Homo sapiens: one gene and its partners. The protein of the gene in region 2 purifies or fractionates together with the protein of the main gene of each other region. This does not show direct contact. Each region holds a gene or a part of one and is shown on either strand. Other genes may lie near its edges.

What was found.
Region 1: the proteins of AKT3 (region 2) and EIF4EBP1 fractionate together in Homo sapiens (co-fractionation; one large-scale study listed by BioGRID). This does not show direct contact.
Region 3: the proteins of AKT3 (region 2) and RPE fractionate together in Homo sapiens (co-fractionation; one large-scale study listed by BioGRID). This does not show direct contact.
Region 4: the proteins of AKT3 (region 2) and CHP1 purify together in Homo sapiens (affinity purification with mass spectrometry; one study listed by BioGRID and IntAct). This does not show direct contact.
Region 5: the proteins of AKT3 (region 2) and DAB2 purify together in Homo sapiens (affinity purification with mass spectrometry; one large-scale study listed by BioGRID and IntAct). This does not show direct contact.
Region 6: the proteins of AKT3 (region 2) and COBL purify together in Homo sapiens (affinity purification with mass spectrometry; one large-scale study listed by BioGRID and IntAct). This does not show direct contact.
Region 7: the proteins of AKT3 (region 2) and MYO1B purify together in Homo sapiens (affinity purification with mass spectrometry; one large-scale study listed by BioGRID and IntAct). This does not show direct contact.

The regions. Positions count from the first base shown.
Region 1 is NC_000008.11:38,033,534-38,037,033, forward strand, and holds part of EIF4EBP1 (eukaryotic translation initiation factor 4E-binding protein 1), read left to right. Parts: intron 1-3,500. UniProt on the Homo sapiens protein: Repressor of translation initiation that regulates EIF4E activity by preventing its assembly into the eIF4F complex: hypophosphorylated form competes with EIF4G1/EIF4G3 and strongly binds to EIF4E, leading to repress translation.
Region 2 is NC_000001.11:243,549,744-243,553,243, forward strand, and holds part of AKT3 (RAC-gamma serine/threonine-protein kinase), read right to left. Parts: intron 3,201-3,500; coding exon 2,986-3,200; intron 1-2,985. UniProt on the Homo sapiens protein: AKT3 is one of 3 closely related serine/threonine-protein kinases (AKT1, AKT2 and AKT3) called the AKT kinase, and which regulate many processes including metabolism, proliferation, cell survival, growth and angiogenesis.
Region 3 is NC_000002.12:210,009,138-210,012,637, reverse strand, and holds part of RPE (ribulose-phosphate 3-epimerase), read right to left. Parts: intron 2,982-3,500; coding exon 2,902-2,981; intron 1-2,901. UniProt on the Homo sapiens protein: Catalyzes the reversible epimerization of D-ribulose 5-phosphate to D-xylulose 5-phosphate.
Region 4 is NC_000015.10:41,234,268-41,237,767, reverse strand, and holds part of CHP1 (calcineurin B homologous protein 1), read right to left. Parts: intron 1-3,500. UniProt on the Homo sapiens protein: Calcium-binding protein involved in different processes such as regulation of vesicular trafficking, plasma membrane Na(+)/H(+) exchanger and gene transcription. Involved in the constitutive exocytic membrane traffic.
Region 5 is NC_000005.10:39,383,481-39,386,980, forward strand, and holds part of DAB2 (disabled homolog 2), read right to left. Parts: intron 1-3,500. UniProt on the Homo sapiens protein: Adapter protein that functions as a clathrin-associated sorting protein (CLASP) required for clathrin-mediated endocytosis of selected cargo proteins.
Region 6 is NC_000007.14:51,306,810-51,310,309, forward strand, and holds part of COBL (protein cordon-bleu), read right to left. Parts: intron 1-3,500.
Region 7 is NC_000002.12:191,248,404-191,251,903, reverse strand, and holds part of MYO1B (unconventional myosin-Ib), read right to left. Parts: intron 1-3,500. UniProt on the Homo sapiens protein: Motor protein that may participate in process critical to neuronal development and function such as cell migration, neurite outgrowth and vesicular transport.

The DNA of each region.
Region 1 (3,500 bases), on a different chromosome or scaffold from region 2:
GTGTGGAGAGCCAGGCTTTTGATAGAGTGTCTGCATGGCTGTCTGCACCTGCTTACTTATAGGGACTGTCAGCTTCTCAGGAAAAACCATTGGAGTAAGTACCCCCCAGTCACTCCTGCTGGGAATGGCCCTCAAGTGATTGTCCCTGGAGGGAAAGAAGCAGCAGTTGGGTTGCACTATCTCCATTCCTATGACTCCAGTTTGCTTTCCTTTTTTTTTTTTTTTTTTTTTGAGATGGAGTTTCGCTTTGTCGCCCAAGCTGGAGTGCAATGGTGAGATCTTGGCTCACTGCAAGCTCCGCCTCCCGGGTTCACGCCATTCTCTTGCCTCAGCCTCCCAAGTAGCTGGGACTACAGGCGCCCGCGATCAAGCCCGGCTGATTTTTTGTGTTTTTAGTAGAGACAGGGTTTCACCGTGTTAGCCAGGATGGTCTCGATCTCCTGACCTCGTGATCCGCCTGCATTGGCCTCCCAAAGTACTGGGATTACAGGCGTGAGCCACTGCACCCGGCCCTTTTTTTGTTTTTTTCCTGAGACAGGGTCTCATGGTGTCACCCAGGCTGGAGTACAGTGGCACAAACATAGCTCACTGCAGTCTCAAACTCCTGGGCTCAAGTGATCCTCCTGCCTCAGCCTTGCAAGTAGCTGGGACTATAGGCACGTGCCACCATGCCCTGCTAATTTTTTTATTTTTTTGTAGAGGCAGGGTCTCTATGTATTACCCAGGCTGGCCTCAAACTCCTGGGCTCAAGCAGTCCTCCCACCTCAGCCTCCCAAACTGCTGGGATTGTAGGCATGAGTCACCTCACCTGGCCTCCAGTTTGCTTTCCATGGTCATTAACCATTTGCACACTGAGGCTCTGCTCTGAGGTTAGCTGTCCAGAGTACTTAAGATAATTTAATTGCCGAAGGGAGTGTCATGTATGAATATTTGAGTCTGTGGAGTCTTAAAAATATCCAGCGACACCATAAACAGCTCATTAGCCAGCAGAACCTTTGAGTGGGTCAGAAAGAAACTTTCCCTCATCAATCTCCACATTCCCAGCTCCGTGTTGCATGTTTGACTCTGAAGCCTATATACAGGCTTGGATGGCAGTTGTGCCAAAGACCCGTACCTGGATAAGGTGAATCCGAGGTGAGCAGGTAGGGCTGCAGGTGTTAATGGCACCCTGTTTGGTTAAGCAAACAAGGTCTGTGCCCAGGAAGCTTACCTTGGAGCAGCTCCCAAGTCTTTGGACATGAAACAGGCAGTGCTGGGAAGAAGGGGATGTAGGCTGGGCACCAAAGCCAGAGCACAGCCCATGTCCTGAGGCCTTAGTCACATGGAGGGAAGAAATTATTAAGGATGGGTTAAAAGAGCTTGGACATTAATGCAGTGAGGGAGAAACGATGGACCCTCTTCTCACATTTACCTGAGCTTCCTTTTAAAGTGTTTGAAGGAGCTGGGTGCGGTGGCTCACTCCTGTAATCCCAGCTATTAGGAAGGCTGAGACAGGAAAATTACTTGAGGCCAGGAGTTCAAGACCAGCCTGAGCAACATAGTGAGACTCTGTCGGTATAAATTAAATAAATAAAATTTTTTAAAGTGTTGGAAGCATTCCACACTGTGTCCCTTATTAAAGATTTGGTGGGGGGTTCCTGGTGTAGAGCACTCCAAAATCCCTCCAATCCCCAGACTCCTTTTTATTATTATTATTATTTTGAGACAGAGTTTCGCTCTTGTTGCCCAGGCTGGAGTGCAGTGGTGCAATCTTGGCACACTGCAACCTACGCCTCCTGGGTTCAAGTGATTCTCCTGCCTCAGCCTCCCAAGTAGCTGGGATTACAGGCATGTGCCACCACACCCGGCTAATTTTTGTATTTTTATTAGAGACAGGGTTTCACCATGTTAGTCAGGCTGGTCTCAAACTCCTGACCTCAGGTGATCCACCCGCCTCAGCTTCCCAAAGTGCTGGGATTACAGGCATGAGCCACCACACCCGGCCTTATTATTTTATTTTATTTTATTTTATTTTTGAGGCAGTCTAACTCTGTCGCCCAGGCTAGAGTGCAGTGGCATGATTTCAGCTCACTGCAGCCTCCACCTGCCAGGTTCAGGCTGAGACAGGAGAATCCCGGGTAGCTGGGATGACAGGCACGCACCACCATGCCCAGCTAATTATTTATTTATTTATTTATTTATTATTATTTTCCTCAAGATGGAGCCTTGCTCTGTCGCCCAGGCTGGAGTGCAATGGTGCGATCTCGGCTCACTGCAACCTCCACCTCCTGGGTTCAAGCAATTCTCCTGCCTCAGCCTCCCGAATAGCTGGGTTTACAGGCGCGCTACCACGCCTGGCTAATTTTTTGTATTTTTAGTAGAGATGGGGTTTCACCACGTTGGCCAGGCTGGTCTCGAACTCCTGACCTCGTGATCCGCCCGCCTCAGCCTCCCAAAGTGCTGACATTACAGCCATGAGTCACCGCGCCCGGCCTATTTTATTTTATTTTTGAGGCAGAGTCTCATTCTGTCACCCAGGCTGGAGTGCAGTGGCACCGTCTCAGCTCACTGCAGCATCCGCCTCCTGAGTTCAAGCAATTCTCCTGCCTCGGCCTCCCGAGTAGCTGGGACCACAAACCCGGCTATTTATTTTTGTAGAGACAGGGTCATGCTTTGCTTCTGAGTCTGACCCTCTAGTTTTTTATTATTTGAAAGGAGAGGCCAGGTGCGATGGCTCACACCTGTAATCCCAGCACTTTGGGAGGCTAAGCAGATCACCTGAGGTCAGGAGTTCAAGACCAGCTTGGCCAACATGGTGAAACCCCATCTCTAATAAAAATACAAAAAAAAATTAGCCGGGCCTGGTGGCAGGCGCCTGTAATCCCAGCTACACAGGAGGCTGAGGCACGAGACTCACTCGAACGATTCTGGGTGACAAGAGTGAAACTCCGTCTCAAAGAAAAAAGAGAGAGAGTTTGATTTTTTTGCTTCCTAAAAGACCAAAAAAGTCCTTCATTGCCAAATCTGAGGAAAAAGGGTCAGCAGAGCAATACCATATTTATCCATTGACATAAAGTAGCGAGGCATTTTCTCATATAGACCTTTATTTTCATGTTCTGGAAGATGAGTTAGGAAGGCACAGCAATATTGTTTCTTCTTTTTTTTTTAATTTGAAACAGGGTCTCACTTTGTCACCCAGGCTGGAGTGCAGTTGCAGCCTCAACCTCCTGGGCTCAAGCAATCCTCCCATCTCAGCCTCCCAAGTAGCTGGGACTACAGGCATGCACCACCACAACCGGCTAATTTTTGTATTTTTTGGTAGAGATGAGGTTTCGCCATGTTGCCCAGGCTGGCCTCAAACTCCTGAGCTCAAGTAATCCACCCGCCTTGACCTCCCAAAGTTCTGGGATTAGAGGCATGCTCCACTGTGCTTGGCCTGGGAAGGCACAGCAATATTGAAAAAAAGGAACATTGCTTTCTAAGGTGAGTTTTAAAAAAAAAAAATGTTCAGTTGTGCACAT
Region 2 (3,500 bases):
CTCTGCCTGCCCCTGGATCCTCACTCATCTAATCTGTCCATGACAAAGCTGCCAGAGTTACCTTTTCATGACACAAATCTGATTATACTATCCCTTGCTTTAAACACTTAAGCAGTATCTCACCCTCTTCTGAATGAAGATTAAATATTTTCTAAGAAACCTAAGATCCTTATAATCTAATATATCAGCTTCATTTCCCAGTGTTACCCAACTCATATTCTACACTCTAGTCACTGAACTTCTCAAATGCCATGTTCTTTTGCAATCCTAGCTATACTCTACATGTAAATTTCTGTGCTTGAGTGCCAATGCAAATTCAAACTCCTTTCTGATCCAGCTCAAGTCCCCCAATCCCCTAGACAAAGCCAATAATTTCAACAGTACTTTGTATGTAGTTTGACCTGAGCATCTGTGAGTATATGTTTTGTGCCCCAAATTATTCTATGAACATCTAGAGCAGAGACTGGTTCATCTCACTCATCCTTGTATTCTCTGTATTTTGATGCAGCAGTGGAGGGGCTTGACACATCTATTATAAAAGAAATTATTAGATCATTGAAAATACTGCATCTTCTCATTAGATCAATATCAACCTCCTGGTGAACAAACAGTTAGGAATTGTTCTATTAATACATACTAGGCGGTTAACATTCTAAGAATTTGCCTCACATTCATTCAATAGTTCCTAAGTACCGACTATGTGCTATTCATGGAGTGGGCTGACAAATAAAAAAAAATGAATGAGACATACACATGAAAACCACAAGTACATTTTGTTCTACTAGCCACTTATATAAAGAGGGCCACAAAGTAAAGGGTGGTCAAAGTTGCCTGCAGGAATAAGAAAACGATGAGATAAATATTCACTGCCTCGAATACCAAGCCAAATATTAGACCAAAAAATGAAATAGATAAAAGTCGGCTGGACACGGTGGCTCATGCCTGTAATCCCAGCACTTTGGAAAGCCGAGGGGGGTGGATCACGAGGTCAGGAGATGGAGACCATCCTGGCCAACATGGTGAAACCCCATCTCTACTAAAATACCAAAAAAAAAAAAAAAAAAAAAAAGCCAGGTGTGGTGGCAGGCGCCTGTAGTCCCAGCTACTCAGGAGGCTGAGGCAGGGGAATTGCTTGAACCCAGGAGGCGGAGGTTGCAGTGGGCCGAGATTGCGCCACTGCACTCCAGCCCAGACAACAGAGCGAGACTCCCTCTCAAAAAAAAAAAAAAAAAAAAAAAAAAAAGATAAAAGTCACCACTCTGTTTAAAGTTACCTATCATCGGGTGCTGCTCCTTACTTAATTGTAAAAGAACGCTATCAAACGGAACACATTTCAAAACTTAAACTGAGAAACTGCTGCATTGTAAATAAGATACATAAGAAATACCAAATAGGCACCAAGAAACTTGACTTCTACTCTTGGTCTGCATGAATGTTCTGAGAGACCTTGAAGAAATCACCTAACCCTCTCTGGGCCTTTGTTTTCAACTCAATGAAATGGAAATAAGAATAGTATCTCCCCTATCCACCCAACAAGGCTCCTGAAAAAGCAAGGGAATTAATAGCTGTGAAAGTGCTCTGAAGAAGAAAACAAAATCACTTTACACATATAAATAATATCTGCAGCTAGGATTACAAAATGTTTCTTGAATGAGTCTTCACAAAGCAGAAAGACAATATCTCTTTTATTATGTTTGCTTATTTCTGCTGAAGATAAAGCCATGTTCCTTACAAGGTTAAAAGCTAGAAGAATACAATGAAAACCATTTCTCAGATAGACTTAAAAATCCAACTTTTTGGGATTCACTCATTAACCCACTCATATATATATAATATATATATATATGAGCATCAACCATACGTAAAACATTTTCATAAAACTCTATGTGAGGTATTATAAAATATTCAACAATATGTGAAATCATCTATGCTTCAAATGAGTAGACTCAGAGAAATACTGATATGCACAGATACCTAGATGGGAAGGCAGATATATCCATATACAAACACACATATTAAGAAACATTTTAATATTAATAGTCATTTCACATATGATTTATGAATTTATAAATATGAATGAATGTATAAACATGAATAAAAATACTGTAGCTCATTGAACAAAGCAGCAAGAGCCATAGAGTTCTTCAATTCATAGCTGTAGCTACAAAAACAGAAATTAAAAGTGTGTACAATTATTTTTTGCCATCAACTCTTTCAGCTATGCATAGAAAAGATTATTTTCAAATGACAAAAAAGCAGTTAGAGGCCGGGTGCGGTGGCTCACGACTGTAATCCCAGCACTTTGGGAGGCCGAAGCAGGCGGATCACTTGAGGTCGGGAGTTCAAGACTAGCCTGGCCAACTTGGCAAAACCCCGTCTCTACTAAAAACACAAAAATTAGACAGGCGTGGTGGAGGTGCCTGTAGTCCCAGCCACTCGGGAGGCTGAGGCAGGAAAATCACCTGAACCTGGGAAGCAGAGGTTGCAGTGAGTCAAGATCGCGCCACTGCACTCCAGCCTGGGTGGCAGAGTGAGACTCTGTCTCAAAAAAAAAAAAAAAAAAAAAAAAAAATGCAATTAGATATGTTAACACAGGTTGCGGGTGGGAGGAGAGTATTGAAAAATAGGTCTATTCCTTTTATAAGAAATACAAAGGCCCAGAGACTGAAAGAAAGAAAAGTGATTCTTCTATCCCCACAAGATCAAGTAACAGAGCAATTAAGAAATTTTCACTCATAATATGGATAATGAAACTCTCAAAATCCTTATTTGGTAAATCTGCATAAAATTTCCAAGTTAGGAAAGAGTTGAGAAAAATTTTTAAATGTTCTATATTATGCAGTTAAAAATAAGTCAGGATCTCAGTGGGAAGATGTCTACACCAAATACATTGCTTCTTGGAGTTAGTTATATTTGAATTAATTTCCATATCTCAATTTTTAACCACATTCATCAGTAATTCACTAAGCGTTATTTGAGGCTTACCGTTTATTTGGATCCTTTATCAAGAGCCCTGAAAGCAATGATTTTGCATCTGAAGAGAGTGTTCGAGGAAATTTAATGTCTTCCATTAATATTAATTCAAAAAGTTTCTCATGGTCCTGGTTGTAGAAAGGTAACCTCCCACACATCATTTCATACATGACAACCCCTAGGCCCCACCAGTCTACTGCTCGGCCATAGTCATTATCTTCTAACACCTAAAAGTGAAATCAGTAAAAAGATTAATTATTACATGTTAACTTTTAAAGCATTATTCATAAAACATAAGATTTTTACATAAAAATGAATCTTAACTTTCAAAGCCTAGGTAGTCTGAGATCTTGACATTTAAACTGTGAAGCATCCTACAAAAAATACAAATCACATCAAATATGTGAAATATTCAATATATATCCACAAATGGCCAGTGTACAAAAAAAGGGGCAGGTCGTACAAAAAAAAAAAAATCCCAAGTACATGAATATACATAAGGATCAAATGAAAAACGTTAGCTAGCA
Region 3 (3,500 bases), on a different chromosome or scaffold from region 2:
GTTCTTTCAAACAAACATAGTGTTCTGGAGGAAAGCAGCTAGTTCAGATCACACCTCTATGGTGCAAGTGGTTTTCCTTGAGAAAACCATTATGTTCCAGTATGCAGCAATGCAGCACAAGCACTTTATATGCACTTCCTACTTTGCCACACAAAATATTAAAAAGGCATGTATTCAGGGACCAAGATTTATTAATTTCTACTGCTTCATCAAGGATATTTATTGCAAATGCATGATGATGAAGAATAACTCCTGATACAGTCCCTGCCTTGAGTTGGTTAAGGCACCAGCAAACTAACTCATCAATGTTTTTGTACCATCAGTAGAAATAATGGCAAATAATTTCTTAGGATTATGAAAATAGTTTTGATATACTCTCATGGATGACCCGAAAGGGTCTTAAGGATTTGTGTGGGTCCTTATACAACATACTTGAGGATCACTGATTTAGACAATAACAGGAACAGACTTTTCCCATCACTGTATTTCTTAGACATTTATTTCTACTCAATATGAAAACTGAACAGTTAAGAATGTTAGCGTTACATATACAACACAACATGTAATCTAGGTCCTAGAATACATTCATGTATCAATTATCCAACAACCAAAATCCAAGAATTAAACAAATGTTTCTCAATATAAAAAACAAAGGTAGTCGGGCTCAGTGACTTACACCTACTATCACAACACTTTGGGAAGCCAAGGCAGGAGGATGGCTTGAGCCCAAGCATTCAAGATTAGCCTGGGCAATACAGGGAGATCCCATCTCTACAAAAAGTAAAAAAAAAAAAAAAAAAAAAAAATAGCCGGTTGTGGTGGCACACACCTGTAGTCTTAGCTATAGCTGTGGCGGGAGGATTGCTTGAGCCCAGGAGTTCAAGGATGCAGTGAGCTATGACTGTACCACTGTACTCTTGCCTGGGTAATAGACGGAGTCTGTCTCTTAAAGCAACAACAACAACAACAACAAAAAGCGAAAAACCAAAAAACAAGGGTCACAAAACCCAAACATTAAAGTGAATGGAGTTCATTTATCTTTTAGACCAAATTCTAGAAAGATTAATTAGCAAGTTTATCAACAAATTAAAAACAAGAAGAAAAAGCAGATTGTGTGTGGTGGCAGCAACACAGGATTGCTAAAAGGAAAGGCACTGACAGGAAGGGATATAGACAATAGTATGGTGTGACAATGGGAGCCCAAATAAAAGGGAGCGAAAAGGGGAAAAAAAGCAAGCATTAAAAAAATTCACACAAGCAAGCCAGAAGCGAGGATTCTGGCCATTGGTTGTACAGTGGGAGAAAACAATGCTATTTATTTCATCTACCTCTCATGGTCATGAGAACAACCGTAATTCATAGGAAAAGTCACGGTATCTGCTATATAAGCTAATCATGGCTTAAAAGAAAGTTTAGATAATCAGAGGACTATATCCCATTATATGGAAATTTCAAAATGGTGAATATATTGGTGGAACATTGTTTCCTCATGCCACATAAATGAGGTAATAATGTACATTTTCTTTGGTGAACTCAAAGTAGATAGATCCTACACAGAGGCTGGAGACTATATTCAACAGAATTTTCTGTGATATTGGAAATGTCCCATAGCTGCACTGTACAATATGTGACTACTGAAGACTTGCAATGTGATTAACGTGAATAAGAAACCGAATTTTTAAGTTTATGTTATTTAATTTAAAAAAAATTTTTTTTTTTTGACATGGAGTGTCACACTGTCACTCAGGCTGGAGTGCAGTGGAATGACCTCAGCTCACTACAATCTCCACCTCCCAGGTTCAAGTGATTCTCATGCCTCAGCCTCCTGAGTAGCTGGGATTATAGGTGTTTGCCACCACGCCTGATTAATTTTTGAATTTTTAGTAGAGACAGGGTTTCACCATGTTGGCCATTCTGGTCATGAACTTAAGTTTATTTAATTTTAATAGCTACATGTGGCTTATGACTACCATAGTGAACAGCACAGAGTCCTTCATAAAACTGGTCAGCAATATGCTGATTAAAAAGAATCTAAGTTCTACTAAATTGTAAGCTACGTTAAAAAAACTATTTATGGCTAGGCTGGTGGCTCAAGCCTGTAATCCTAGCACTTTGGGAGGCCAAGGCAGGTGGATTGCTTGAGCCCAGGAGTTTGAGACTAGCCCGGGAAACATGGCGAAACTCAGTCTCTATTTTAAAAAAAAGAAAAAAATAAATAACACTATTTATAAAAATGTGTAAAATTTCTCATGTTTAAGAGATCTGGCAGGTGAGACATTGCTAACTTAACATAAATCACTTGTAGGCCACTAAGTAATCTTAAAAATCTTAATTTACATTGTACTAGGACATTGGAGTGAATATTTAGGCACCACTTGTAGAAAGCTCCAATTTGCACAAAATAAATGGCTTCTGGACCATAAATCAACTGATTCATAAATTCACTTAACAATTACACTGAGCCCTGATCATGTCTATGCTTAGCTTTAGGAAAACCACAGTAAACAAACTGGATTCAATCCCCGCCCTCAGAGAGTTTATAGTCTAATAAAAGTAATCGCAGATCAAAGGAAGTTCTCAGAGGAAAATCAACAGGTGATAAGATAATTGGATAAAGGTTAATTTGGGAGAGGACGCTCAAAAAGGCCTCTCTGAGGAAATGACAAATGACTTGAGGCCCAAAGATGAGGCAGCCAGCCAAGCTACTACCTTTCCATGCAGATTAGCCAAGGCCCAGAGGCAGGAAGAAGTTTGGCTTGTTACTGGAGTCAGGCCAATGAAGACCCAGGATAGGAAAGTTGGGGAAAGGGTGCCAGATGAACTTGGAAGTTAAAATCAACCATCCAGTTTTCCTTTACTTGAGCAACACATCCAGCTTCAGATGGCGTAACACCCACTTACCAAAGAAAGGGTCCTGGCCTAGCTGCTTTCGAAGGCTTTCTACCACAGGGTGACCAAAGGTGATGTTGGGAACAAAATGCCTACAAGACAAACAAAATCTACTCTGAAAATGTTTTCAATTCAGTTTCTGTATCTCTCTCAATATGAATTCTGACACAGGTTGAGGGGATTGTCTGCAATGTTTTTCAATTTAATACTTAATCATCAGTATTAAATAATACTAAAAATAATGGGTCATTTTGGTTTTACTAGGCAATGTCTCCTTGACATTTCAACAAATCACGTCACATATATTTTCATAATGATTTGACTCCGTAATTCACGACCCATGACAAGTAGAAATGGAGAGATGATAAAATCAGAAACCCTCAGGCTTTATGACTTGCCCAAGTCACACACTAGTTAGTAAGTTCTGGACTCTAATATTGATCTCCTGAATCCTAGTCTATCTCAGGAGGCCTGTGGCTACTTCTAATCACTTCTATCACAAGGCACTAAATGACAGTTTCTTTAAACTTTCTTAAAGATGACTAATAAAGAAACATGATGTGTTTATTAGTAACGACCACCTTTCACCGAGGGTTTACTACATGCCAAGC
Region 4 (3,500 bases), on a different chromosome or scaffold from region 2:
TGACAGAACGAGACTCCATCTCAAAAAAAAAGAAAAGAAAAAGTTATTTTGTCCTTGCCTTTATTCCAAATCTTAATGCAGAAGAACAGACTGATAACCTATGTAAAGATTACAAGTACAGCTAAAGGTAGCTCTAGATAAAGGAAAGTTGAAGCCTGCGCTTCCCGGAATAGACTACACCTTAACATTCCCCCTGACATGAAGACTTCAAGCCCTGGACTAGTCTCTTAGGGATTAAGAGAGATTTTAAAACATTATATAAAACAAACAAAATCTATCTTCTTATAATTGGAGAAATTTGAATAGGAAGTGAATGATAGATAATATTAAGGTGGCTCACGTCTATAATCCTAGCCCTTTGGGAGGCTGAGGCAGGCAGATCATCTGAGGTTAGGAGTTCGAGACCAGCCTGGCCAACATGGTAAAACCTCGTATCTACTAAAAATAAAAACAATTAGCCAGGCGTGGTGGCACATGCCTGTAATCCCAGCTACTTGGGAGGCTGAGGCAGGAGAATCATTTGAAGCCAGGAGGCGGAGGTTGCAGTGAGCTGAGATCGCGCCACTGCACTCCAGCCTGGGCGACAAAAGTGAAACTCCATCTCAATTAAAAAAAAAAAAAGAAAAAGAAAAAAAGGGGCCAGGTGCGGTGGCTCACGCCTGTAATCCCAGCACTTTGGGAGGCTGAAGTGGGTGGATCACCTGAGGTCAGGAGTTCGAGACCAGCCTGGCCAACGTGGCGAAACCCCATCTCTACTAAAAATACAAAAAATTAGCCAGGCCTGGTGGCAGGCACCTGTAATCCCAGCTACTTGGGAAGCTGAGGCAAGAGAATGGCTTGAACCCAGGAGGCAGAGGTTGCAGTGAGCTGAGATCGAGTCACTGCACTCCAGCCTGGGCAACAAGAGCAAGACTCTGTCTCAAAAAAAAAAAAAAGATAGTATTAAGAAGTATTATCAACTTTCTTAGGTGTGATAATAGTATTGTTGTTACGTAAAAACCATCCCAATACTTAAGGGATACATGCAGAAGTATGAAGGGGTAAAGAGTTCCAATACCTGCAACTTTCAAATGGTTTATCCAGAAATTTACAAAAATAAAGCTTATATCTTCGCAGCTGCTGCTGGGGTCAATTATCTTCTGAATGAATAAACCTCCAACTACTCTCTGGTCTGGACCACCATCCCCTCCTTGCCCCCGCAAAAAAGTTCCTGGCCAGTGGCTCACCTCTGTAATCGCAGCACTTTGGGGGACTGGGATGAGCGGACCACCTGAACTCAGGAGTTCAAGACCAGCCTGGGCAACATGGTGAAACCCTATCTCTACAAAAAATTAAAAAATTAGCCAGGCGTGGTGGCATGTGCCTGTAGTCCCAGCTACTCAGGAGGCTGAGCTGGGAGGATTGCTTGAGCCCAGAAGCTTGAGGCTGCAGTGAGCCGTGATCATGCCATTGCACTCCAGCCTGGATGACAGAGCAAGACCCTGTCTGAAAAAATAAATAAATAAAAATTAAAAATCAGGTAGTTGCCAGGCACAGTGGCTCACATCTATAATCCCAGTACTTTGAAAGTCTGGGGTGGAAGGATCATTTGAGGCCAGGAGTTTGAGGCTGCAATGAGCTATGATTGCACCACTGCACTCCAGCCTGGGCAACAGAGTGAGACCCTGTCTCAAAAAAAAAAAAAAAAAGTTCTTAGGGTCTCTTTCCCACAATGCCCTCTCTAATTGACAAATAGTTGCTTCTTACTCCTTTATGGCAACAAATGAGAATAAAACTTTGCACTAGAACTCAAAAAGTACAGAGCTTTACAAATCACTTAACCCAAAACCAGTTAAAGGTGTTAGTTATCCATGCATTTCCATTTCAATAGGAGGCAGAAGACAGCCTGGTTTTCTGAAGTGACAGAACCTTCAGGCTGGTGAGGGCTGTGAAGGGTCCTACATTTGGAGGCACGAGAAACCTGAAGTTGAATTTCTACTTACATTCTAGCCATGATATTGTTCTCAAGCAATTGCCTTTGCCAGGCTTGTACTCTGTTAGAACTCTATCATTACTACACTCTTTCAAACAAACAAAACCTTACCAACCTGTGCAACTTACTTCCTAAACCTGTTCAACACCCTTCCCGTACCACATGACATATACCAAAAGGTAGAGACTAAAAATAATCTGCATTCATTACTACTTGAATGGCATGAATTGTTTATCAAGGTGTTTTTGTGGTTGTTGTTTGTTTTTGTTTTTTTTTGAGACAGGGTCTGTTTCTCCCAGGCCAGAGTGCAGTGGCACGAACATGGCTCACTGCAGCCTTGACCTCCCGCCTAAGCAATCCTCCCACCTCAGCCTCCTGAGTAGCTGGGACTGCAGGCACGCTTCACCATGTCCAGCTAATTTTTTTTAAATTTATTTTTTTGTAGAGATGGGGTTTCCCTATGTTGCCCAGGCTGGTCTTGAACTCCTGGGCTCAAGCGATCTGCCACCTTGGCCTCCCAAAGTGCTGGAACTACAGGTGTGAGCCACTGCGCCTGGCCTCATAAAGTTTTAAGTAATTCACAGCCAGCTTATTGCTACAATTAAGTGAATTAAGGGTGATGATTACAGAAACTCCTAAGACATTTGTGGCTTTATCCCCGATTACACCTTTTTTTCAAATAAGCTTTATGAAAATGCAGAAGTCTGAAAGAAGGTAGTAGAACAAAGATAATTTAGCAAATATGCCAATAGAAAGCATTTCTTAGACAATTCCTGTTAAAACATCATAACAGTTTCATAAACTGTTAAAAACTCCTTTAAAAATTTTATTTCCTTATAATTGGCAAAACATCTGTACTTAATTCCTAATCAACTGTCCACTACAAAAAGAAGTATAAAATGCTGTCACCTCCCCAATGATATAGCCCTACACATAGTTTTTATAACTAGTACATGCAAATGGTATTTTCCCAATAAGACGATTGTTAACTATGGTTCAAAATAATAACACTCACATGAAGTTTATTATACCAGACACTATTCTAAGTAGTTTGCATAATTCATCTCATGTAATTGTCGTAAGAATCCTATAAAGTAGGCACTATTATTATTCTAATTTTACAGATGATGAAACTGAGGATCACAGGTAATTCTTATCCAGAATTACTTTTCCAAACACTTACTGTTATTCATTAAATATCAAATACCAGCTAATCTAGTCATGTAGAAATTCTAATCTTTTTAAATTTGCAAAAAATATGGTTAAATATAATCATCAAATTCCAATGCACAGCTTTTGCACTGAATATAAATTTAGTATTCCTCAATTATGTTACATTTTGTACTGGCAAAGGAAGTAGTAAAATGTCTTATAATTGTTCTTAAAGTGCTTCTGATAGATAGTTTTCCAAATTCTTCATAGAAGAAAAGGCAGATGAAAATGGGACAAATTCCACCTCTCTACCCACTCCAGATATCCGTTTTTATTCTTCAAAATCTTTTGCATCATACCAAATTACTCCTTGAAA
Region 5 (3,500 bases), on a different chromosome or scaffold from region 2:
GCCCTTTTATTTAAGTCTCAACCTCATTAGGTGAAATCTTACTGTTGCTTACTTCATGTCTCTGCTCACCCTGGTTCACACATACAGACTGGCTTAATTCATTATGAGCATTGTTTCAATTTGTGACTTTGAAAGTCTTAAAGGGAATTGATTGTGAGTCACTATAAATGATTATCAAAGTATGTTGAGCTTGAAAGTAAGTGATTTCAGAAGCTTAGCTCAGCTTCCTACCTATACACATACAGTCCTCTCTATTGTACCCCCAGAGTCATGTAGGATCATCTCTCTAAATGAGAAAATTCATCGACTAATACATTCATATTTTATAGTTCTGGCTGTGATGAAATTTAAGATCAAATGCATTTCCCTAAAATCGGTCCAGTTCTTTCCTCTAGAGGTGGGAGAGAGGCTTTTCTTTTATATCACGGCCTTCAGGTATGTCTCTTAATATTTAAGGCTCTTGCTGAAGCTGATAGTCAAGTAGGATCTCATCCTCATCATCCCAGTCTCTCCTCTGGGCTTACCCTTTTTGTCTATGTCCTCTGAAAGAGACACTCAATACTGATCTAATTTAGTCAATCACACATTAAGATCTCCTATTTGTACATCTTTTCATAACATTGCTTAGAGTTGCCTGTGTTGTGACAGTAATCTCATCTATTTAGTGGTTAAAGTCAACCAACAACTGATCTTTAATTTATATACAGTAGTCCCTCCTTATCCTCAGGGAATATGTTCCAAGGCCCACAGTGGATGTCTGAAATGGCACATAGTGCCAAAACCTATATACAGTATTTTTCTCATATACATACACATGATAAAGTTTAATTTATCAATTAGGCACAATAAGAGATTAACAAGTAATAAAATAGAATGATTATAACAATATGCTGTAATAAAAGTTATTTGAATGTGGTCTCTCTGTCTCTCTTCTCTCAAAATATTATATTGTACCGTACTCACTTATTTTCAGACCAAGGTTGACCACAGACTTAATTTCAGAAAGTGAAACTGCAGATAAAGGGGGACTATTGTACAAGGTAGAGACATGGGTTTAAGAGTTAATTTGAAAGACATATCAAATATGTAGCTCTACTAATTCTATCCCCTCTCTATCATTTCTCTGGTGTGTTAATTTTTTGGATTTTCAACTGTTTGATAAAAAATTCTCAGCTTAAAAGCAGTAAATTTGATGAATCCGACATGTCTTTATTCCAGTAAAAGACAGAATTATAACTCATCCTAGAACAGAACTTTCATACTGACATCACTTCCTTCTGCTTGACTTTGATCCATTAAATACTTAACTATGCTACCCAGAGAAGAATATAAATGATAAAAAATGCCTTGCTGAAGTGCAAGTTATAGTAGTTATCTTGCATTACCCTGAGCAGAATACTAAATATTTTGATCATTGGGGAAAATAAACAACTTCAAGGGAATATAAAATTTGCAAACTAGTAAATACAAAAGGGTTCAAATAGAACTCCTTGGCTTTTAAAAGAAAAAAAAATACCCAATTGTTTAGAAAGTTTAAGTCCTATTTCATGGCCACAAAAGAGACAGCAAAATCAGACCTAAATGGTAATCTATCTTTTGGATTCCTTTACTGTGAGGCATAAAAATACAGTTTTTATAAGCCAAAGCCAGGCTTTCTCTTTATAAAAGAAGAATTTGTCACAAGAAAGAGCTTATAATTAAAAAAAAATTTAATCAGAGAAATGGATTGGAAGAGCTATTAATCTAGGGATCTTTATACAATCAAAAGGTAGGATAAAATGTATTACAAAAGCTTGTGATTTCAATATTTATTTATTTGTTTTGAGCCACCTCTGGGTTAGAACAGTTGAGTGTTCACAGCTGGTAGAGTTCTCGTTTTCAAATACTTCAGAAGAAGTTCTTAGGACACCAAACAGGAGCCACAATGTTAGACTTCTGAATAGTCACCCTATAAGTAAAATGTATAAGGCTCTCCTCAGGCTGGGTTTGTTATTAATCCAAGATTAAAAGTGTAGTTCACAGACTACAACTGAGAGCCCAAAGACTCCTCATCCACCCACTTGGTCAGCGCCTCATTCATTCTTTGTCGAACTGTCAACACTGCCTCCAGTTGGCCACTGTTTGAGCACCTGAGCCGCACGCACTGGAGACACGGCAGTGCGTTACAGAACCTGCTCGTAGGGAGCTCCAGTAATCGGACATAAATCCTGAGTTCCATAGCCTAGCTCTTCTCTGGGTGGCTAATCTCACCTAACCATTCCAGTTTGTCAGACTGAGGACTTCTCTACTCAAAGCCTTAAGTGGCTTACTGCTGGCTCCCTATATTAAAATAAACCTCCTTAGGCCAAATTTCCAAATGATCCACAATAAGACCCACGTTGTTTCTAGCCCAACTATGATCTATTTTCCTACACACTTCAAAGACCCAACTCAAATTCAGATTCTTTACAAAGCTTTTAGCATCGATTTTTCTGTCTGCACTTGCCCTGTGCCCACCCGTGTTATCTTATGGCATGTACACAAGGACATAAGTGACACTCCTGCTTTGTATCCTGATCCCATCCCTTGTACCAGATTTAATCTCCTTGATCACAGATCATGTCTTATATTCTTTCCATAGTAACTGTGCTTTCAAGTGGTTGTTAAAGTTGCAGAACATGGGTTTTTATGTTTTTCTTTCTTTTCCTTTTTTGAGATGCAGTGTGGAAGGATAATGCTCAAGGGGCTTGCCAATAAAAATTCTGTTCTAGGGGATACCACATAGTTTGCAACATGAGCATTATTTGAAACTCATAAAACTTTTCTGTATAAATTTGAGGGGAGTGACAACCATCTAGGACCAATAATAAAGTCTAGGTAATTTAGATTTCTTTCTCTCTTTACATATTTCAGAGCAATTGTTGAAAGAGTTGAATATTTTTAAACATGCTGGCTTTACCAAGTAGAGATAAATCTATTTTTGACCTATGACTATAGAGTCAATAGATAAGAACATGTCAAAGCCTAACCAGCACATAATTAGATCTGTTAGCCTTCTTTTGGTTATCAGAGAGTATATATTTTGATGGTATTTATTACTTTATTGTTAGTTTAACTAAAACTTGAATTCCTATAAATAAAAAATTCTTAGACTTCATAAAGTCTAATAAAAATGAGACTGAAGATTATCCATGTTGTTTTCCATTTCCTTTTTTAGAACATTCTAGAAGTCTACAGAAGTAGATTATATAGGCAGTACTTCCTTGCCTATTCCAGTGGAATTCCACTTCATATCTTGAGTGCTTTGCTCTCTTTGAATATTACTTGTTTGAATGTCATTTATACTTGGGAAGTAAGTGTTCAGATACTGATTTATTTGAGAAAACATCACTAATGGAGGAGAGCACAAAGTTGACTACAAATCAAAAGGACCTCAGAGTTAGGATGGACCTGTCAGGATAATCTAGTCTAGTACTTTAAAAAGTTTATCCTCAGAACTATAACAAAAATTATGAAGAATG
Region 6 (3,500 bases), on a different chromosome or scaffold from region 2:
GTAAGAATGTCTGCAGGCACACTGGCTTTTCATGGCAAAATGCTGCTGAGACACTCCAGGGCTTCAGAAATAGAGCAGAGCAACATCCTCCTTCATCCTGCAGGGAGCTAGAGCAGTAGCTTTCATAAAGCAGCTTTGGAAATGAGCTCCGTGCTTCAATGTGGCCTAGCAGAGTGGCCAACGATGAGGACGTGGACACTGACGAGAGACGTCAGAGTCACATGGCAATCTCACCTACAAAACCAAGAGGACAGGCCGGGTGCAGTGGCTCAGGCCCATAATCCGAGTGCTCTGGGAGGCCAAGGCGGGTGGATCACTTGAAGTCAGGAGTTCAAGACCAGCCTGACCAATATGGTGAAACCCCGGCTCTACTAAAAATACAAAAAAAAATTAGCCAGGCGTGGTGGTGCAGGCCTGTGATCCCAGCTACTCAGGAGGCTGAGGCAGGAGAATTGCTTGAACCTAGGAGGTAGAGGTTGCAGTGAGCTGAGATCACGCCTCTGCACTCCAGCCTGGGTGCCAGAGCAAGACTCCATCTCAAAACAAAAACAAAAACAAAAACAAAAACAAAAAAAGGAGAGGACAGTACTGTCCTACCAACATCAGAGGGCCCTGATGGGAGAGCCAGACCTCCCACACACAAGGAGCAGGTTCTGGCCATCTCCTATCTCTGTCAGCTAGACAATGGCAACAGGCAAGTGGCTCTAATGCCAAAATAAGGCAAGTCCTTGCAAAGAACATTTTTTGGGTCCTCCTTTAGAAAAATCTATCATTCTAAAAATGTGAAACATGATGGTAAGCAAAAAGAAATGGACAAATAATAAGGAAATATTCCAAACTGACATATTTTTCAGTTTAGTCTAGCTTCCAAACTAGTTTTCCTTACTTTTCTGTTGACTGTGAAATTCACAAATTAACTGCATTCAGAACACAGTCTTTGATTATGGCTTGTGCCGTTGAAACCAATCAAATATTTCTGAGAAGTGGTAAAGTGTAGCAATTTAGAGCGTTGTCACAGCATGAAAAACATTCAGACTTCATCACCCCAATTCCCACTTTTTAAATCCAATTGGGTGGCTTGGCTCTTGTGAGAGATCTGCAATTCACTCTTCCTACGTGTGATGTTGTCAGAGCGCAGATAACCATTATCACGTAATAAGTGGTTTAGGCAGGAGCAGGAGGAAGGAAGTTTTCAGTTCCACCCAAAACCAATTCTACCTGGTAGCTATAGACAACAAGACAGATGGATAGGTGGGCGGACGGGAAAGCCTGGCAAGGACCTGCCCTGCATGGCAAATGTTTAGACTCTGGCTGCTGTCGATCAGTCTCCCTCCAGCCTAACAGTTTGTGCATTGAACACTAGTGGATTTTGCACTTAATTAAGAGGGTTCTAGCCAACCAAACTGTATTTAGAGACTAAAAAATTAGCCACATGAACAAAAGTATACACTTCGGCTGCATTAACACTCCTACCCAAGACTATTTTTAAATACAACTCCCAAGCCATTAAGTTTGAAAACCGCCAGAACTGATTTGGTAATCTGCTGCTTTGCCAAGTGCTGGAAGTTAGCTTTAACTTCACGCCCACTCTCACACAGACAGACAGACAGACACACACTCACACATACATTCACACAAACAGCTGGTTTTCCCATTATGTTCCTTAGCCTTAGTTTGCTACTTACTTAACTGCTCAAGCCATCCACATGTAATTGCAAAGTTAATCCATTTGGTATTTCTCCTCTTCCAGCTCTATGAGTCCTTAAGCCACGCAGAGCACTTAGCAGAGCACTTATGATAAGACAACGCTTTGCCAATGCTCCTCATTCTAACAAGGAGTCTCTCCAACTTGCCTACCTCCTCCAAACCAGCAGGAAGCTCTGACTTTCCCAGGTGCAACTACCCTAATTGGGGGCTGGGGGATCCTCTTTCCCCAACTCCTCCAGGATGGTGCCCACTATGAATAAGTGGAAGCGGCTGGCTGTAGCATGGACAAGGAGAACAGAGACATCATAAAAAGCAAAGGACGTCAGCACCCCGATGTGTTGCAGATGCAAAGTCCTGTTTACCACTGGCCTTTAAGATTACAGTCTAAACGTCACTTCCTCCCCTTAGATGTCTGGAAAGCATAGGCTTTGTAGGTCAGAGCTCTATATAACGTGGGTGTGTGTCACAGCAAACTAAGGACATGTTTTTCAGAAAGGCCAGAAACTGTCAGGGGCACCCCTTCCCAAGACCCTGGCAAGGGGCAGAGGAGCCACATACCCATCTGCACACTTTAACACCTACGTTCCCCCGGCCCTCACAGGAGTCATAAATGCAATCACAACGGCTAAGATCTCTGATCCCCCCTGCCTCCAAGCTGCCCTTTTAAGGACGATGTGATTATGGTTGGGCCAAGGGGACATGAGCAAAGGGACTTGTATGGCTGGCAGGTGGAGCACGAAAGGACGGGGTGCATCTCCCCCTCCTCAGGCCAGGCTGGAACAGATGGAGACTGCACACCAGCCACAGCTGAGCACCAAATAAAAATCAGCAGGTCTCTGGGAACGCTGCACCCCAACACCAGCCCAGGACTCCCGAGGTGGGCTTTTAGATAGGAGAGAGAATTATCTCCTCTTTAAGCCACTGTCACTTTATGTTCCTCAAAATAAGACCTCTTAACACCTCCCAAATCTGCACCGAACTAGGCTGCATGGCTGGCAAGCTGAGTCCAAGCACATCAGTTCCAAATATGTTAGTGCCAGTTGATCGGTCTGTTCTCATACAGGCTGGCAAAAACAAGATTTAAGCAGCAATTTAAGAAACAGTTTTTTTGAAAGAGGACTCTAGAATATTCTGGGAACACTGAATCATATGATTTTAGAGCTCACATGAGTCTTAAGATCATGTTATCTAACTCCCTCCACCAGCAAGAAGGAAGCAGGGGTTGTTCTGTGCATCACAGGCCACAAACCAATGACACAAAAGCTTACAAAGTAATAGTCCTGGCTCCAAGGAGCTGCTCAGAATTCAGTGGGTCAGAGGGGCAAGTAAAGGGACAATCATAATCCCATAGGAGGTTTTCGGACAGGGGAGGGCGTGGGGTGTGAGAGGGATACTCTCAGAAGGCCTCCTGGGGGAGCCCCAGCTGCAGCTTAAACAACAGGCATTCTGAGAAAGGGGCAAGAAAGCTCTCCAGGCCAAGGTGAGAGAGAAAGCCTGAGACCCCAGGTGAGGCCTGGGAAGCTGCGGTGGCAAACAAAGAGTGGCAAATCCAAAGGCTGGAGCCTCGCTGTCCACTGGAACTAGCCGCACACAGCTATGTAAGTTTAAATGGATTAAAATTTTAAAAGGTGAAAGACTCAGCTCCCAGTTGCAATAATCACCAGTCAAGTGTTCAGAAGCACCTGTGTCTGGCAGCACTGGCAGAGAACACTGGCACCTGGCAGAAGCATCATCAGACAGCCCTGGGCTGAAAAAGTCTGGAGAGGCCCCATCAGGATGGGCCTGCAGGCTGC
Region 7 (3,500 bases), on a different chromosome or scaffold from region 2:
ATGTTAAGTGGGACCAGCAGGAATCTTGCAATTAAGATTCTTTGTGTATTTTGGGGGAGCTTTTTGTTGTGGTTGCAATGTGAAAATGCTTTCATGTAACCAGTGAAAATTAAGTAGGCAAATGACGTGTAAATGTATTATAATGTCGATAACTAATAATCTGTTCCACTGTCCTTTCAATTCAATTTTCTAAAAAGTCTTTAAAGATATTGCATTCTTTTTTTAAACAAATTTAAAAACCTGTAATGTACAATTCTGAAATACATTACTATATTTTCATTTTAACACAGCGAACTTAAGCCATCTGTGCAATCTTAAAGCATCTTGAGTCCAGGAAGAATTGGACTGAAAGTCCCCGGAAGGCAGAGATTTGGTTTCCTCTTAAGCCTCTCTTAAGCTATCAAGGAAAGACAGGCCCCTTGCATTTTCAGAAACTTATCAGGTGCTTATCTGATAAGCAAAAGAAGAATGTCAATTTTTACTTTTCTGCTATTTATAAAACTGCCTATCTTGGAAGAGTACAAATTTCACCCCAACTCTCTTCCCAAAACCCAGCTCTGCAATGGCATCCACACCGCTTATTCTCACACATCAAAGATCTGAGCGAGCTCCAGGACTGGATGCCCTGTGGCATGCTGCTCGCAGGCAGACTGGAGACCAGAGATCAGACAAACGCCCTGAAACTCCCAGATGACAATCTATTCCTGAAGATAAAGGCATGGCCAGCAAGGGGGTAAGAAAAGGGACTGGCTATTCAGTCTCTCACTAGCAGGCTGAATCTTGTCTCCCTCAGCTGGGGAAGGAGAATGACGCAGGACTGGGAAGCCAAAACACCCAGAAAAGGATAAACTGAGAAGCAGTTCAACCAATTCTCCTAGCTTTGGACCAGCCAAGGACACCTACAGGAATCCTGACTTCAGGTGACAAAGGAAACAAGCCAGGAAGGAGAGGGACAACAGCTGGGCTCTCCCTCTAACTCCTTAAAAAGAACTCCTTAAAAGTGACCAAAGCATCAAAGTACTCACCCAAAGAATCAAAGTTTTTGCCCAAAGCTCCACAGTACTCATTCAAAGCTTCACAGTACACTCTACCTGGTGGCACTTCGTTGTTCTGGAAAGCAAAGGGGTCTTTGAGGCTTGACCTCTGGGCTAGTGACTCAATTCCCTCATCTACAAATACCTCCTACTAAGGGATAGTGATGAGAAGGAAATCAACCTACAGAAAGTACCCAGCATGAGGCCTAGCACAAAGCAAGCACCCAATACTTAATAAACAGTAGCATGAATAATATCATATAACTCAATGTGAATGACTCATTCTTTGGAGATTTGGCATGTCTTGTCCACAAGAGCCTTTTAAAATGCAAATATGCCTGAAGTCTATTAACAGCCTTAGTTGACAGCCACATTGAACACAGGATGAGGAAGGGATGCTGGCAGGTGTGTAGAGAAGAGAGTTGGCGGAGGTACCAAGGACCTGCCATGCACCAGGGAAGACACTGCTATTCAAACCTTCTCGCATAGAATGGTAGTTTATATATCATTTTTTGGACCTCAGTCAGGGTTCTGAACCTGAACGCTTTCACATCATTGGAGATTGGAGGAAATAAAACCTAAGTCAGAGAAGCTGGCACCTGTGTTCAGTTTTCTTCCACTCTCTTGCTTCTGTTTGTTCTCAGCTTTTGTCTCAAAAGCAAGTGTTCCCCTGGTCTTGGTCACTACAGCTGTCATAGCCATTTTCTTCATTTCACCAACATCCACTCTTGGGATGCATCCACCTGCCCTGCTACAACGACCCTGAAAGCACAATGGATTTCCTTTCTTCCTTTTAAAATGGGTCTAATGCATTGTCTTGCATGACCTGTGTGCTTAATAAAATATGAACTGATGAGGAAGAGGCTGACAACTGCAAAGACCTACCAAAGGCTGTAAGAGTGTAATGCTGGGAAGCATCCTTTTTCCTCCTCTATGCTGCTTATGGTAAGTTGGAAGGTGCTCACCTGTTAGAGTTTAGCAAACCATGTGTCTGCCTCTCCTCCAGAGGCAAAAGTCTAAAATAGCCAGTGGAGGAGAATTTCATAGCCTGAGGAGACTAAAGTTACTCTCACCTATACCACAGAACTTGAAGACCCCAAATGGTGTCCTAGCTTGAAATAAATAAACAAGGCAGAACTTCCAGTCTTCAAATTCTTATCTTAGAAACAACAACAACAACAAAAACCTAATATTGACTTTTCCATTTGCCCAGGAGCATTCTGAGGAATCCACAAACAATCCATGATGCCAAGTGTTAAACTCCAGTCTGCTCCTGTACTTGGTGTCAAAGTCTGGTACCTCTTGCCCAGTGCCACTCTCAGTGCCACCCTAAGGACAGATACCACTGCTATTCCCTTTTCATGCAGATGCCTAAACTAGTTCACTTCCCCTGTGGGGAAGGGATGAGCACAAAAATCATGTGGAATGAGTGTTCCCACAGAGCTCAGAAATTTGATGATCTCAGAGGATACTGTAAAGAAAGACCCTTGACACTTCCCTAAGGAAGAATGCCTTCTGTAAAAGGCTACTGCCAGGACAAAAAGCATGTGCTGGGAAAAATCTATGGCCTGCTGCTGCGAGTGTTTCCAATTCTGATGTCCCACTTCCTCTTTATAAGCACATTCCTTCCCTCCTTATTTCTCTTCTTAAAAAGACACTCTGGCATCGGGTCTCAGTTAAGAAGCAAAGTGCAATGTTCTATTAAAGGCTGTAAGATAAAAAGGGCTTAAAATGGATTTCAATAAACATAAAAGCCTTGAGTGCAATATAAGATCTACTCTGTTCTACCACTTTTAAATGTTTCGAAAAAAGAACTTATTTTTAAATGTTGGCAACCTAACTTTTTAAAAGTAAAGTTTCATTCACTTACAGCTTATTCATACAGGCCATAACATACAGCTCTTTAGCAATACAGTTCTAAGAGTTGTAATGTCCTAACCTGGGCTTCCAAACCTATCTCACAGTGGTTTTTGGAAGAATCAACTACAATAATAGACGTGAAAGTAATTTGACATCTGCCAGGGGCTAACCAACTAGATAATCAAACTGTTGTTATTATTAAAATACATCATACCATACAGTATATACCTAAAGAGTATGGACTTTGGGATCCCCAATCGCACTTCCACCACTTAGTAGTTAGCTACACAAGCACAGAGGGTCCTCAATTTACAATGGTTCAACTTAGGATTTTTTTACTCTATAATGGTGCAAAAATGATAGGCATTCAGTGGAAATCATACTTAGAATTTTGAATTGTGATGTTTTCTGGGGCTAGCCACATGTAGTACGATACCCCATCACAATGCTGGGCAGTGGCAGCGAGCCGCAGCTCCCAGTCAGCTACACCATCACAAGGATGAACAACCAATACTCTACAGTGGACTGTGTTACCAGACGATTTTGCCCAACTGTAGGCTAATGTGACTGTTCTGGACACATTTAAGGTTCGGTAGATTAAGTGTA